2 separate regions of the Homo sapiens genome follow, and region 2 is linked to region 1. The links come from fine-mapping of genetic effects on gene expression. Tissue or cell type: whole blood. Region 1 holds a variant in brackets; the other region holds the start of a gene. All regions are shown on one strand. Distances are between the middles of the regions.

Region 1 (8,104 bases):
CATTGTAAGGACTATGGCTTCTTCCCTGCACAAAATGGGGAGCCACTGGGGAGTTTTGAGTAGAAGAGTAGTGATCTCCTATTTTGGAAGAATAATTCTGGTTGATAACTGTGATAATCCTGTAGTGGGACAAGTGTGGAAACATGAGGTCCAGATAGAAAACTGTTGAAGTAATCCCAGCAAGAGATGGAACTGGCCTAGACTATGGAGTAGCAGATTTTAGGACTATTTTGACATTAGATCTAATGGAATTTTTTGATGAGTTAGATGTGGGGTATGAGAATTCAGAAGAAATCTAGTGTGGCCCCAAGGTTTTTGGCCAGAACAGCTGGAAGGATGAAATTTCCATCAACTAATATGGGGTAGGCTGCTGATGGGGAGCTATCTGGGGTTACAAGAGGAGAAGTTCAGCTGGACAGGTTAAGTTTGAGACATTTATTAGACACACAGCAGAGATGTTAAGCAGTGAGCTATATGAGTCTGGAATTTGGGAGAGAAGTCTGGTCTGGATCTATGAATTTGGAATTTGGAAAACAAGGTGGATTGTCTCAGAAGACAAGTGAAAAAATGTTTCAAGGTTGAAAATGATTAACTGTGTCAAATGCTATTGTTAGGTTAAATAAGATGGGGACTGAAGATTGAGCATTGATTGGCTCAGTTTTAACCTTAGGAAAGAGAATAGCAGTAGCCTTATTGTCTTCCACATATGTAGACAACTTGGGGTTTTCTGTTAAAAGGAATAGTGAAATTCTGTGAAGAGCATAGCAGAGGATGAAGTGAGGATGAAAAGAGGGTTTTTTCCCCTAAGATGGGAGAAATTACAGATGTCATACACTAGTTAGAATAGTCCTCAAAAGGAAGTGGGGTAGATACACTGATATCTACCACCCAAACCCAGATATCTATCTCCTATAATAATACAGCAGGTAAAGTGGGAAATTGCTGGAACACTGTCCTTGAGAAGGATAATGTCAAACGCACAAGTGAGTTTGTGCGTGATCATGCTACTAGTGCTTAACGAGTAGCATGGTCAGTTCATGCTTAGAAACTGAAGAAAGTTGAGTTACTAGGCACACATGTGGGTGGAGGTTAAGTGGTGTGTACTGGCAGCTTATAGAAGGTCTTCTGTTTTCTCACTGAGTATGAGGAAGGGAGTGGACACATCGAGGTTTTAGGAGAAAGGAGATGATATAAAATAACCAACTAACAATGTGGGAGAGTGAACGGATTAGGGAAATGAATGTGTTTGCTGGGTACTATTAAGACCCATGTGAGATTCCTGATCATGAATTTAAAGTGAAATTGCCTGGGCTGATGCCTGTAATCCCAGCACTTTGGGAGGCCGAGGTAGGAGGATCACTTGAGCCCAGGAGTTTGAGACTCAACAGCCTGGGGAACAGTGTTGGGCAACAGTGAGACCTCATTCCTATAAAAAAATAAAAAAATTAGCCGAGCATGGTGGCACGTGCCTGTATTCCTAGCTACTTGGGAGGCTGAGCTGGGAGGATTGCTTGAATCCGGGAGGCAGAGGATGCAGTGAGCCAAGATCATGCCACTGCACTCCAGCCTGGGTGACAGAATGAGACCCTGTCTCAAATGAATGAATGAATGAATGAATGATTGAATGATTGAATAAAATCGGCCAACCTGATTATATGGTTTTCTCCAACAATGTGTAGCTGCACTGGTGCAGGTAAAGAGTATGTGGTGGATTAATTTTAATTGTGTTTTAGTACCCTTACTTCATGTGTGTATATCCGTAAACAATATATACTATTACCATGTTTTTTAAATGTACATACATGACATATTCTATTGCAAATTGTTTTTTATTTGACCTATTCTTGAAATTTATCCAAGCTGATAAATGGGATGTTTCATTTATTTTAACTGTTGTGTAATAATCCTTTATATTAGTTATCCAGTCTATCTTTTCTCCTACTGAGGTACATTTAGGTTGTTTCTATGTTTTCTCTATCACAGTGTTGCATTTTTTCCCCTGATGTTATTGATTTGTTGGAGTTCGTTAAGTATTATAGATACCAACCCTTTATAACTATATGTTTTGTAAATTTCTTTTCTAAAATTTTAACTTGTTTTTAATTTTGTTTAATGATCTTTTTTGCCATTTAACATTTTAATATCCAATGTACTAAATCTTTTCTTTTACGGCTTATTTTTTTAATTTTAAAAAAATTTTAATTGTGGTTAAAAAAACACAAAACAAAAATTGCCATCTTAACTGTTTGTGAATATATGGTTCAGCAGCTTTAATAATACTCATTTTGTTATGTAACAGATCTCTAGCACTTTTTCATCTTGCAAAATTAAAACTCTATACCTTTTCCCCCGTCCCCTAACCCCCAGCAGCCACCATTCTACTTTCTATTTCTGTGAGTTTGACTACTTATGATATCCCATGTCAGTGGAGTTGTACAGTATTTATTTTATTTTTGTGACTATTTCACTTAGCATAGTTCTCAAGGTTCATGCATGCTGTAGCATGTGACAAGATTTCCTTCTTTATTAAGGCTGAATAATATTCCATGGTATTTATATGCCACATTTTGTTTATTCGTTTATCTGTTGATGGACATTTGGATTGCTCTCACCTCTTGGCTATTGTGAATAATACAGTGAACGTGGTTGTGCAAATATTTCTTCAAGAGGCCTGCCTTCAATTCTTTTGGATATATACCCACAAGGGGGATTGCTAGATCATATGGTAGTTCTACTTTTAATTTTTTGAGGAACATTTATACTATTTTCCATAGCAGCTGCACCATTTTACATTCTCACCAGCAGTGCTAAAAAGTTCCAGGTTCTCCGTATCTTTGCCAACACTTGTTATGTTGGTGTTTTTGTTATTATAGTGGCTGTCCTAATGAGTGTAAGGTGAAATCTCATTGTAATTCTGATTCGCGTTTATCTCTAATCATTAGTGATGTTGAGCATCTTTTCATATGCTGTTAACCATTTGTATGTTATCTTTGGAGAAATGTCTATTAGAGTCCTTTGCTCATTTTAAAATCAGGTTATTTGTGGGTTTTGTTGTTTTTAGGAGTTCTTTATATATTCTAGATATTAACTCCTTATCAGATATATGATTTGCAAATATTTTCTCCCATTCTGTAGGTTGCCTTTCATTCTGTTTCTTTCCTTCGAT[A/T]TTCAGAAGTTTTTAAATTTGATATAGTCCCATTTGTCTATTTTTGCTTTTGTTGTCTGTGCTTTTGGTGTCATATCTAAGAAATCGTTGCCAGATCCAATGTCATGAAGCTTTTCCCATGTATTTTCTTCCAGGATTTTTACAGTTCTAGGTCTTACATTTAGGGTATAAAATCAGGTGGAAATATTTTATATTTTTAATACAAATAACCCAATTACCTTTTAAGTATTTGTTGACTAGTCAGTTAATCTTTTCTCTTCTTATTCGAAATGCAACTTCTGTCATATAACTAAGTTCCCAAGCATACTTACGAGTCTGTTTTTAGGCTCTTCATTGAATTCCATTTGTCTGTTTGCCTCGCTCTGTATCAGAACCAAAATATCTTAAAGCATCTGGCTGGCCGGGCGTGGTGGCTCACGCCTGTAATCTCAGCACTTTGGGAAGCTGAGGTAGGAGGATCGCTTGAGGCCAAGAGTTCAAGACCAGCCTGGGCAATATAGCAAGAATTCATCTCTACAAAATATTTAAAAAATTAGTTGAGTGTGTTGGTGCATGCCTTTAGTCCCAGCTGCTCGGGAAGCTGAGGCAGAAGGTTCACTTGAACCCAGGAATTTGAGGTTGCAGTGAGCTGCGATCATGCCACTGCACTCCAGCCTAGACAACAGAGCAAGACTTTATCTCAAAAAAGAAAAGAAAAAAAAGCCTATCATTTTATAGTAAGTCTTGATTCTGAAAAGGTGAGATCTTTTTCCTCTTCACCCTCACCCTACCTCCCTCTCCTTTCCCCCGACCTTCGTCCTCCCTCTTCACTGTCTTCTCTATTCTTGGCTTTTTGTGTTCCTCCACATGAATTGTGGAATCGAATATATAAATTAATTTGGAGGGAACTGCAATTTTTGAATATTGACCCTTCCAGTCAATGAATTTGCATCAGTGAATGTTCAGATCTTCTCATTTATTTAGTTTTTTATGTCTTTCAAAAATATTTTGTACTATTATCTGTAATATTTTATACATATATTATTAGACTTATTTCTATTTATACATTTTGTTTCAATTATAAGAATTACCTTTAAAAACTGGAATATTTATGTTTTTCTTGCCAGAGCTTAGGAATGCTGTTGACCTTATACATAAAACATTGAATTCTTATTAGGTGCACAAATTTATAGATTGACTTGGATTTTTGTATAGATGACTACATTAAAAAGAAAAAAGTCAGAACCATTATTTGTAAGTAATAATGGCTTTGTTTCTTTTCATTTCTCATACCTTTTAGTTTCTGTGTGTTTGGGGATGGTTATTTTGTTTAGGTTTGGCTTGGTTTTATTGATTTGTCTACCAAGTTTTATGTGTATATGTATTTTTTACATTAAAGAACATGTATTTTAGTCATTTAGTATGGTATTTGCTGTAGGTTTTTGGTAGATAAATTATATTTTTAGTATCTTTATTGTTATAAGTAAATTCTTATGGTTTTTCTCTTTAACCACATAATGATGTGAATTATATGAATAGATTTTTGTTTCCTTTTTCAGTGTTAGACCATCTTTCAATTCCTGGAACAAACTTAACTTTCCATGATATGTATTTTTTATACATTGCTGGATTTTATTTGCTAATATTTTACTTAGGATTTTATTTTCTAAGTTGACCTATAATTTTCCTGTATAAAATTGCATTTGTCACATTTTAGTATCAAGGTTGTCCTAGCACCATGAAATGGATTTAGAATGGTTTATGTAAGATAAAGTACATTTCTTCTAAAGGTTTGTGTGGATTCACTTTCAAATCTGCCAGAGTGTGTTTTTTTCCTTTTTTTTTTTTTTTCATTTTAAGTGAGTGCAAGTAGCTTTTCAAATACTGATTTAATTTTTAAAATATTTACAAGTATATTTAGAGTTTTTATTTCTTCTTGAATGTTAACATTTTTATAGAAAATGGTATTATCTTTTTAAATTCTTTGACATCAGTTTCTTCAGAATTTCCTTACTTTTAAAAATCTCTGTAACTATAGTAATGTTTTATTTTAAATTACTGATATTATTCATTTGTTACTTTTCTTGATCCTTTGTTAGAAGTGTCCATTTTATTAGTCTTTTATAAGAAAGAGCTTTTGTCAAGCCTTCTATTTTTCTTCTCTTTCTTTGATGAGGTTTATTATTTTGTGCATTTTACTTTCTATAAGCTTCTTTCATATTCTTTTTCTAAGCTTTTAATTTGGACATCCAGCTCACTAATATTTAATCTTTTTAAAATAAAGCTGTGAATTTTTAAAAATAGCTCTAGCTGCATCCCACAAGTTCTTATATATAGTATTTTTATTGTTACTGTAATATTTATTGTCACTTTTTCTTTGAGTGGTGGCTCATACCTATATCCAAGCACTTTAAGAGTCTGAGGCGGGCGAATCACTTGAGCTCAGGAGCCTGGACAACATAGCAAAACTGCGTCTCTCTACAAAAAGTACAAAAATTAGCCAGGCGTGGTAGCAAGAGCCCAGCTACTTGGGAGGCTGAGGCAAGAGGATCACTTGAGCCTGGGAAGTCAAAACTGCAGTGAGCTGTGATCACACCACTACACTCCAGCCTGGATGACAGAATGAGACCTTGTCTCAAAAAAAAAAAAAAAAGAAAAGAAAAGAAAGAAAGAGAAAAAAGACATATGCCTGAAAGACTATGTGTGTATTCTCTAATTGATGGATACAGGATTTTGTATATTTTCATGAATATCATTCAAATCTTGAATATCTTTACTAATATTTTTCCTTCTTGATCTGTCAGTTATAAGAAACATATGTTAAAATACCCATGATGATTGTGGATTTGTCCATTTCTCCTTGAAGATCTCTCCATTTTTATTTTATATATTTTTAAAGCTTTTCACAAATTTTTGAGGATATTCAAGCTTGGAATAGAGTTATTTCCCTAGTGAAATGTTCCTTTTATTATTTTGTAATGTACGTAATTTTAATAATTCTTTTGCCTTAAAGTTCATTTCTCCTCCTATTAATAAAGATACTCCAGCTTTCTGTTGGTTAGTGCTGTCTGATACAACTTTTTTCATCTCTTTACTTTCAATCTTTCTTTGTCATTATGTTTTAGGTGTGCCTTTTATAAATAACATATAGCTGGATTTTATTTTTTGATCGAGAGTTTCTGTCTTTTAACTGGTGAGTTATGATACCTGTATATTATGATTACTGATATATTTTTATTTATTTCTCTTATCTTGCTTTGTGTTTCTCTTTGCTTCTGTTTTCCCTTTTTCCTGTCTTCTATTTAAATGATTAAGATCTTTTGATTTCATGTCCGCCTAATGGTCTGGAAGTCATGTATATTCTATTTCTGTTCTTTTAGTAGTTATTACCCTGATTTTATTTACTTATCTATTTTTATACACAAGGCATTTCTGTAATATTACCCTGATTTTAGACTTGTGCTCTGACTTAACAGAGTCTGAAATTATCCATTATCTCTCAAACGATCATGACCACTACAAGAACGTTAGAATGCTTCAACTTCAGTTATTTATCTAATTTTTATATTATTTAGTATTTTAGTCCTACCTGCTAAATTTCCACAAATCAATCATTACTGTGCAGTTATTACTTTTATTTTATAAATTCAGTGCTTGTTTATATTTACTTACACATTTGTTTTCTCTGCTTATTCTTGCTTCTTGCATCTGAGTTTTTTCTTTCAAGTTCAATTTATTAATTTATGAAATACATACGTTAGATTTCTTTTTAGCAAGGTTCAATGATTAATAAATTCTGTCTTTGTCTTAAAATGCTTTATTTTGCCCTGCATATTAACTGATAACTTAGCTGCTGGGTATAAATAGATCTAGGAATGGACCTGTGAGATATGTACACACACACACACACACACACACACACACACTTAAATATATATATATATACACATACATATATATGTCTCTCTTTTTATTGTAAAGTAAAACAGATTCAAAAACAAAATAAATGTATGGCTCAGTGAATTATTATAAGACAGCACCCTTGTAACCACCACTCAAGTGAAGAAATAGAATGTGGCCAATCAGGAATATATTTTTATTTAATCTGCTTAGGACTTTTGCAATATTCTGGATAATTTTCTCAAATTTACTAAGTCTTTAGTAAATTTTACTAAGTCTTTTTTTTTGTTTTTTTTTTTTGAGACAGAGTCTCACTCTGTGGCCCAGGTTGGAGTTGAATGGTGCGATCTCTGCTCACTGCAACCTCCACCTCCCAGGTTCAAGCAGTTCTCCTGCCTCAGCCTCCTGAATAGCTGGGACTACAGGCACGTGCCACCATGCATTTTTAGTAGAGACAGGATTTGAGCTATGTTGGCCAGGCTGTTCTCGAACTCCTGACCTCAAGTGATCCGCTCACCTTAGCCTCCCAGAGTGCTGGGATTACAGGTGTGAGCCACCATGCCCAGCAATTTTACTAAGTCTTGAGAAGATTATCCAGAATGTTGCAAAAGTATCCTCTAATTTACTGTCTTTCTTCAGCTGTGTCTAATACGTTTAGTCTGCCTTTTTTATTGCCTCGTTTCTTTATTTGCACAGCTCTATTTGATTCTTTTTCTTCTTTTCTTTTCTTTTTTTTTTTTTTTTTTTTTGAGTCAGGGTCTCACTCTATCACCGAGGCTGGAGTGCAGTGGTGCGATCATGGCTCACTGCAGCCTCGATCTCCTGCTCTCAGGTGATTCCTCTTGGCTCAGTCTCCCAAGTAGCTGGGACTACAGGCATGCGCCACTATGCCCTGCTAGGTTTTTTTTTTTTTTAATTTTTTTGTAGAGACAGGGTTTCACCATCTTGCCCAGGCTGTCTTATTTTATGTCTTTTATCTTTTACAACATGCTGGTCATTTACAGATTATTTTTCTACTGTTTCAAGTAATCCTTCAGTTTGTTGTGTCTGTGGAGTCTA
Region 2 (8,104 bases), 130 kb before region 1:
GCTCTAATAGTTGTGCAAGAGTTGTGCATTACAAACTTGGTTGTACATTAGGTTAATGATGTGGGGAGCTTTAAAAAAAATCCCAAAGTCCAGGCCCAACCCCAGACCAATTTAAGTCACATTCTTTAGGGGTAGGAGTGGTGGAGATTTTTGTTTTGTTTTGTTGTTATTTTTCAGTATCCCAGGTGATCCCGATGTTCAGCCAAGGTTGAGAACTCATCCATACTAGCGCCAACTCCTTGGACTCCATCCTATTCTTCCAGGCTAGCAGCTTATCCTGGCTTCATTGCCTTCTCACCCAGCTTAGGCCCCAGGGTCATTCACTTTAACCAGGTTGTTGCCCAACCGCTCATCTCCCACCCAGAGGGGATATGTAAGTTGCTAGAGAAAGACACTTCACTATCCTGATTCAGGCTTTCTAACTCCACTGGAGCCCTGTGCTAATCAGCGTTTATACAAGCTGCCTGGATAGATCTATTTCTCATAGTGGCTGTTCCAACCTGTTTCCACTCTCCTCAGATCCCTAACCCATGCCCTCCCCTCCCTCCTATCACTCAGCACAGTGCTTAAGTCTGTGGAAGAAACTCTTCCTACATGTGTGCACATTTAAGTGATCATATGGCGTGCTTCTGCTTTACTAAGTTTACTAAGTTTTGCAACTCTTCTGCAATTTTAAAATTATTTGAAAATAAGATTAAAAGCCAAAAAACCGAAAAACTCCCTGGATCCCTCCAGCTAGGATCTTTGTTCTCTATTTTCCTTTGGAGAAAAATATGTCCCCACACATGGTTACTACTTCCTCACCTTCCATTTGCCTTGCCAAAACTGCTCTGGATATTGTCATCAGTGGTACCCAAGTTGACAAATTCAGTGGATCTTTCTAGACCTCATGTTATATGACATCTTAGGGTATCTGATACAGCTGACCATTCCCTTCTTCTGGAAATACTTTGGCTTCCAAGATACAAAACTCTCCAGGTTTTCCTTTTCTACCTCTAGCTCCACCTTCTTATTCCAACTTTTCTTTTCTTTTTTTTTTTTTTTTTTTTTGAGACAGAGTCTGACTGTGTCACCCAGGCTGGAGTGCAGTGATGCGATCTCAGCTCACTGCAACCTCTGCCTCCTGGGTTCCAGTGATTTTCCTGCCTCAGCCTCCCGAGTAGCTTGGATTATAGGCATGCACCACCATGCCCAGCTAATTTTTGTATTTTTAGTAGAGATAGGGTTTCACCTTGTTGACCAGGCTGGTCTTGAATTCAAGCGATCTGCCCATCTCAGCGTCCCAAAGTGCTGAGATTACAGGCATGATCCACCGCACCCAGGCTTCTCCCTAGGTAATCTCATTCGTACCTCTGGCCTCAAATGTCATCTATGTGCCAGTGATTCCTAAGCTTACATCCCTATGCTAGACCTCTCTTCAGAGCTCTAGACTCATATATCCACATAGCTACTTAATTTTGGCCCTGGATGTCTCAAAATTAAACTCTTGATGTTCTCTCTCATATGTGCTCTTCCTTTAATTTGTCCCTTTCATTATTAAATGGTACTGCCATCCTCTTCCAGCCACTAGCTGCTCACGCTAGAAACACTGGTGTCATTTCAGATATTTCCATTTTTCTCACTAACCAAGTCTAATCCTTCAAGTTCAAAATATAAACATAGAAATGTTCCATTTCTCTCCATCTCTACTGCACCCACTCTCATCTTTTGCCCAGATTACAGTGATAGCCTCCTAACTGGTCTCCTTGTATCCCATTTTGCCTTCTCCAGCGCAGTCTCCAAACACTAACTTCAGTGACCTTCTGAAAATACTACCACGATTATATCATTCCTGTGTTTAAATTCCTTCTACTGCTTCCCACTTCACACAGGATAAAGTCCAAAAATATTAATAAGAGCAACCACATACTTCCTGACCGGGCCTCTGCCCACCTCCTGAACCTCATCCCTTGCTTACTGCATTAAGGCTCCACTGCCTTTCTCAATCTCTCAACCGAATAGGCTCTTTGCCTGCCTCAGGACATCTTCCTAAAATTTTGATCCCTCCATATTACACATATGAAGTAGTATAAGGCTAGATTATGCTTTGGTAGCAAATAATCCCATCTAACTAGCTTATGCCTAAAACGGTGTATGTATTGCTCACATCACAGTCTGACATAGGTCAGGTGGCTCCTTAAAGAATTAAGTGGAAACTCAGGGGTTCAGAGTCCTCCCAGTCTGTGGCATACCCACATTAAAAATGTGGCCTTTGTTACAGCAGTTGAAAGAGAAGAGTGTGAGTGATTATGCAAGGAGTTTTCTGGTCAGGCCTGAAAATGTTATATATCATACCAATAGGATCTGCCCATACCCCATTGGCCAGATCATAGTCATATGACCCTAACCTAACTGCAAAGGAGGTAAGAAAAAAAAAAAAAAAGTCTTCCTGTGTGTCTAGGAAGAGGAAATGAGATTGGTGAACATCAGGCTACTTTTTGCCACATCCTGGTTAAAACCTACTCATTTTTAAAGTCTCAGCTTAAATAATACTTACTTACAAAGGTCTTCCAGCTCCTCCAACTTAAATTAGGCATCCCTGATACATTCTATTGTAGCACCCTGTAATTTTCCTTTACAGCATGATCACAATGGAAAGTTTATATTTCTTTATGTGATTAATATTTATATCTGTTGCTAGACTGTAGGCTCTATAGGAGCAAGGACTGCATCTGTTTTGCTCCCACTGTGTCTCTAGCACCTATTACAGTACTTGGTATATAACTGGTATAAAAGTTTTCGAGTGAACAAATGAACAGTTGCACACAGTCATTGCCTGGCTCCAAATAGCACATGACTTTTGCAGGAGAAAGACAAGTAAGTAGGCAGTCATGGTTTAGTGTGATGATAAATGTTCCAGGCAGGTAAGCCCAGGGAGCTGTGAAAGCAACCTGAAGGAACTTGCAAGGCTTCTGTGTTTTGTCTTTCACAGCAGTCGAATCCAGGAGTCTGCAAACTATGGCCTGTAGGCCAAATCTGGCTCATTGCCTGTTTTTTAACTGCCCTTGAGCTAAGGATTGTTTATATATATATATATATATATATATATATATATATATATATATATATATATATTTTTTTTTTTTTAGACAGAGTCTCGCTCTGTTGCCCAGGCTGAAGTGCAATGGTGTGATCTCGGCTTACTGCAACCTCCGCCTGCCAGATTCAAGCAATTCTCCTGCCTCAGCTTCCTGAGTAGCTGGGATTACAGGCGCCCACCACCATGCCTGGCTAATTTTTTGTATTTTTAGTAGATTCAGGGTTTTGCCATGTTGGCCAGGCTGGTCTTGAACTCCTGACCTCAGGTGATCCATCTGCCTCAGCCTCCCACAGTGCTGGGCTTACAGGTGTGAACCACTGCGCCTGACCTGTTTTTATATTTTTAAGTGATTCAAAAATAATTAAAAGAAGAATATATTACGATACATGAAAACTATGTGAAATTCAAATTTCAATGTCCATAAAAAATATTCTATTGGAACACAGCTACTTCTTTTATTTATTGTCTATGACTGCTTTTGCGCTACAATGGCAGAGCTGAGTAGTTGTGAAAAAGGTCATACAGCTTGCAAATCCTAAAATATTTACTATCTGGCCCTTAATAGAAAAAAGTGTGCTGACTCCTGATCCAATCCATGCTTAGTTTAAAAGATCACATCTATCTGAATTACGTCCAACTGTACATCTTTAAGTTTCTGCTTTTTCCCATTCTCGTGTCTGCTACTAGAAATCAGGTTCCCTTTAGTTCTATCCTTGCAGCAGGATTCCTGCCCTGCTATCTCTCTCCTCTTTTCAGTTCATCACTGTGTACTAAAAAAAATCTGCACTCTTCAGCACAGCATCCCTAGTTCCCCATTATCTTACCACACCTCACCTTGTCAGCTGTATCTCTTACATCATACTTTCATCTAACCTTATCAATCACTTAACCCACCCTTGCCTTCTCTGCTGTAGGCCAATGCTCACAGTTACTCTCTCTGTGTGGAATGTCTATTGCTGGTATTTCTCTCTTATCCATCCTTTACGTTGGTTATCTCAAATGCCTCCTTGCCCTAAAAGCTTTCCCCAGTTCCTCGTCTGGGAATAATTATTGCCATCCGTGCGAGATTCTCTAACGCTTTGTACGACTGCTTTATTTCAAATTCTGCTTTATAGTTCTTTTGTGTACACACACAGATTGTTTCTCACGTTCTATTGAAAGCTGCTTAGGGGAGGAATTGTATTCTATTTTGTTAATCTCTGCATCCTTTCGGCGCCTAGTAAGAGTCTTGTACGAAACAGAAATGTCTCTCCTTCGTAAAATTCCTCATCGGGAGCTGGGACTGTGAATTTTTGTAACGTTTAAGAACTATCTGTTATTTAAGAACAAACACTCTGCTTAACTTGTTTAGGGTTCACTAGAGCGAGTAAGACCTTTTTAGGGCACGCCGTCTCGCTGGTTGTCACACACGCATGGATCGCTGCCGGGACCCTTAGGTTTGTCTGCAAACACGTGGGTGATAAGCGCTACCCTCCAGGCCCCTCCTCTGTCCACGGTGATTGGCGGACCAAACGTTCCAATCATCCCTCCCCGCCTCTTTCGGCAGTAGCCAATCAGAGACCCCGAGCGCCTCCTGACTACTAGACACTGTTTACTAACAGATCGAAGCTGGGGAATAAGGGGTGTGACCGTTCTGGGGAGGTCAGGGAAGGGAAGGTCTTGACTGCGAGTGCGCACCAGAGGAAATGGGCGGGGCAGAGCTTTGGGTCTCACCAATCGGAGTGGCGGCGCTCCTCCCTCTCCTGCCTCCCCGCCAAGCAACAACAATTCGAGGAGCGAGGCGGGGAGGCTCGTGAAACGTCACAGCGTACTGCCCAATGGGAACCGGCGTTGGCAGACGCGCGCGCCCTGTGTCCAATCAGCGAAGGCGGCTCGAATGGCTCCCTTACCTTGCTGGCTGTGGGCGGAGCGGCCTGAGGAGGCGGCGGTGGAGCAGGGGGCGGTTTGGTTGCGCGGTACTAGCGGTGCCCGCCGAAGGGGGAGGAGGCGAGGAGCGAGCCGTGCGGCCAGAGCGGGAAAGAGACTCGTCTTTGCGTCCGAGTTCTGGAGCCGCCGCACCCCGACTCCTGGGGCCGCGGCAGCGGCTGCGAGGGGACGGGCGTCCGCTGTCTCCTGGGTTCCCCTCGTAGCGACCCGCGGGATCGGAAAAAAAGGAGAAGATGGAGGAGGAGGGTGGCAGCAGCGGCGGCGCCGCGGGGACCAGCGCGGACGGCGGCGACGGAGGAGAGCAGCTCCTCACTGTCAAGCACGAGCTGCGGACTGGTGAGCGACCCCGCCCTCTGCCGGCCGGGCCCGGCGCGGGGGCGCGCCTGAGGGCACGCGGGTGCCCGCGCGGGGCTGGGGGCGCGGGGCCGCAGCCGTGGGCGCGGAGGGGCGGGCCTGGGGCGGGGCGTCGCGGTCGGGGCGCGTGCCCCGGGGGTCCCGGGAGGTGGGGGCGCGCCTTGGGGGAGGCGGCCGAAAGTTTTCCCCAGCCCGGGAATGAGCGGCGGGCACCAGGCATCGGGGCCAGCGCAGCCGCCGACCGCTGCCCGTGGCACGCACCTCCGAGGATGTCGCTGCTCCCCCTTCCCGCACAGGTGACACACGTGTGTCTGCGTCCTGTCAGGGCGAAAGGTGCGCCTGCCTCCGCGTGGGGCGAGCGGCGCTTTGTTTTGGAGAGTGTCTCCCTCCTCCGCCCCTCTGGTCCCCGCGATGGGGGGTCCCGGTGGGGCTCTGTGGAGCCATCCCCTAAGGTGCTGGGGTCCTGTAGGAGATAAACGGGAGGTTTCGCCTCGGGCTTTTACCGAGTCCAGTCTAGAGACAGGAACAGGAATCGCCGGCTCCAGGGATTGAGTGCCTTTATTCTCACTTATCATGAAATACTATACTTGGCCTTGAATTTCCTTCAGAGGTCCCTGGAGATGATGGCTTTAGAAATTTAAAGCTCCAGGTAAAAGGAACTAACGAGCAGGCTTCAGCGCTTACGTTCTAATGTTTGAGATCACTAGCGTTGTCCTAAGCTTTATAACTAATTAAATGTATTCGTGGTGTAGGTTCAGGTTGTTCATTTTGGAAAATGCTTATTCAGACCAATCAGTACAATTTGGATTTATATTCTTGGAGCCCAGTCTCGTATTGTAGATATATTAATACTTTTTTCTCTGAACAGATAGTACATTTTAATGAGTCGTTCGTTATTACTAGATATGTTTGTGAGCGTTGAAGGTTTTTGACAGAGCTGCTTTGGCATATTGGGATTTTTTTTTTTTTTTTTCAGACAGAGTTTCGCTCTTGTTGCTCAGGCTGGAGTGCAGTGGCATGATCTCGGCTCACCGCAGCCTCCGCCTCCCGGGTTCAAGCGATTCTCCTGCCTCAGCCTCCGGAGTAGCTAGGATTACAGGCATGCGCCACCATGCCCGGCTAATTTTGTATTTTTTGTGGGGGCGGGGTGGGGGGGGCGGTCCTCTCCACGTTGGTCAGGCTGGTCGCGAACTCCCGACCTCAAGTGATCCGCCCGCCTCGGCCTCCCAAAGTGCTGGGATTACAGGCGTGAGCCACCGTGCCCGGCCGGGTTATTATTTAATTGTGAAGGCACAAAAGCTTAAACGGCAGGATTCAGGTGTCCACTAGTACATCTTGTTTCTGTTTTGAACAGATTGGAAAGTTAGCTCTGTCCGTCAGTTCTTTCAGTTTTTGTTATTTCTACTGAGATTGCCTATAAGCATTCCATTGGGTGCCAGTGTGGTGACTTAATTCAAGAGAGATGTCAAATTCATGCTTCTTAATTCAACATTTGTAAACATTGTTTTTTTGGTCATTGTGAATCTGTTATACATCTTGAGCCAGCTGTTCCATATTTTTGAGTTCCTAACATAACCTGTATGAATTCAGGTGATTTGGTTTTTCTTCTCTCAATTTCATAGACAACTGATATTTTCAAAAGACCCTGACATGGTTTACTCAGTATACATTTATTCGGATTTGTGCCACACTCAGTGTCAGGTGCTTTCTGGTGTGAAGATTTTGAATTTTTTTCTTGTCTTACATAACGATCCACTGATTTATATGTATGGAATCCTACTGTACAGCAAAAGCTACTTGAAGTCATATGCTTCTCAGCCATCGACTGTGGTGCAACAAGCAGCTTTTTGCTAAATGACCAAGGAGCAACCTGCTTGTTATTAGTAGTTAACCAACTGCTTGGTTTCTGGATTTTGCAAACAATGCTAGTTTTGTAGAAAACAATGAGTACTGCTTTATTTCCCCCTCTCTTCTAACTGTGTGAATCATCAGCTTCAAGTTCGCATTTTAGAAATTTTTCTGATGGATGGTGAGATTATACTGAATTCATTAGTACTGTTAACTGTCAAAGGAAACGAACAATCATTTTGATTTATTACTGAACACTGGAACAACTGACCGGATATAGTGGTCAAAAACACTGTTAAAATATAACTTGAAAGAGTTGCTCATCTTCAGCCAACTGCACTTCTTTCAGCACATGATCTATAATAGGCACCAGAGTAATTTGATCTGATATGGTCCCGTCTCAGAATGTAGATAAGCATCTAGTTATATCAGGCTGGCAGTTGGTGGTGGCTCATTTGTGCAGAACACTTTATTGTATTCCATAGGATGAATGAAAAAGCAAAAAACGTCCCATGAAAGGACATGGAGTTGGAAGACATGATTCTAAATCCCGTCTCTGCAGCTTAATATGTAGACATCGGCAAGTCACTTCACCCTTTCAGATTCACATCTTTAATCTATAAAATGTGAGAATTGAATGAGACACTGTTGGAAAAGTGCTAAGCGGGTTGCTTGGCATATAGTGGGCCCTTAGGAAATGTTGGTTGAATGTATATATAAAAATCATTCCATAATAGTATCTTATCTTGAAGTGTGTGAATTAATCCAGTGTAATTTGGGAAACAAATCACTCATTTAGTGTTTAGCCTATGTCACATTGCCTGGCTGTTATCTTTTTCTGTATATGTCCAGTCTTCTCATGTAGAGTGTAAATTCGCCATAATCTTTGCGGCTGCT

The links. PIP is the estimated chance that this variant, and not a neighbour inherited with it, causes the effect.
Region 2: RPS6KA5 starts here. The variant in region 1 is fine-mapped to the expression of RPS6KA5 in whole blood (INTERVAL, PIP 0.98).

Annotation. Positions count from the first base shown.
Region 1 is chr14:90,925,632-90,933,735 of GRCh38, reverse strand. The region is part of intron 5 of RPS6KA5 (ribosomal protein S6 kinase A5); the gene reads left to right. Among named protein-coding and RNA genes, the nearest start is that of LINC02321, 100 kb to the right of the region's middle. The variant A/T (reference allele first, on the strand shown) is at 3,167.
Region 2 is chr14:91,057,569-91,065,672 of GRCh38, reverse strand. RPS6KA5 (ribosomal protein S6 kinase A5) reads left to right here and starts at 5,032. Exons shown (of 17, transcript NM_004755.4): 1 at 5,032-5,341. The coding sequence starts at 5,239. It also overlaps a transcript of DGLUCY not described here. RefSeq lists enhancers at 2,158-2,307, 4,722-5,302 and silencers at 4,530-4,659, 4,880-4,939, 5,310-5,439, 5,510-5,579.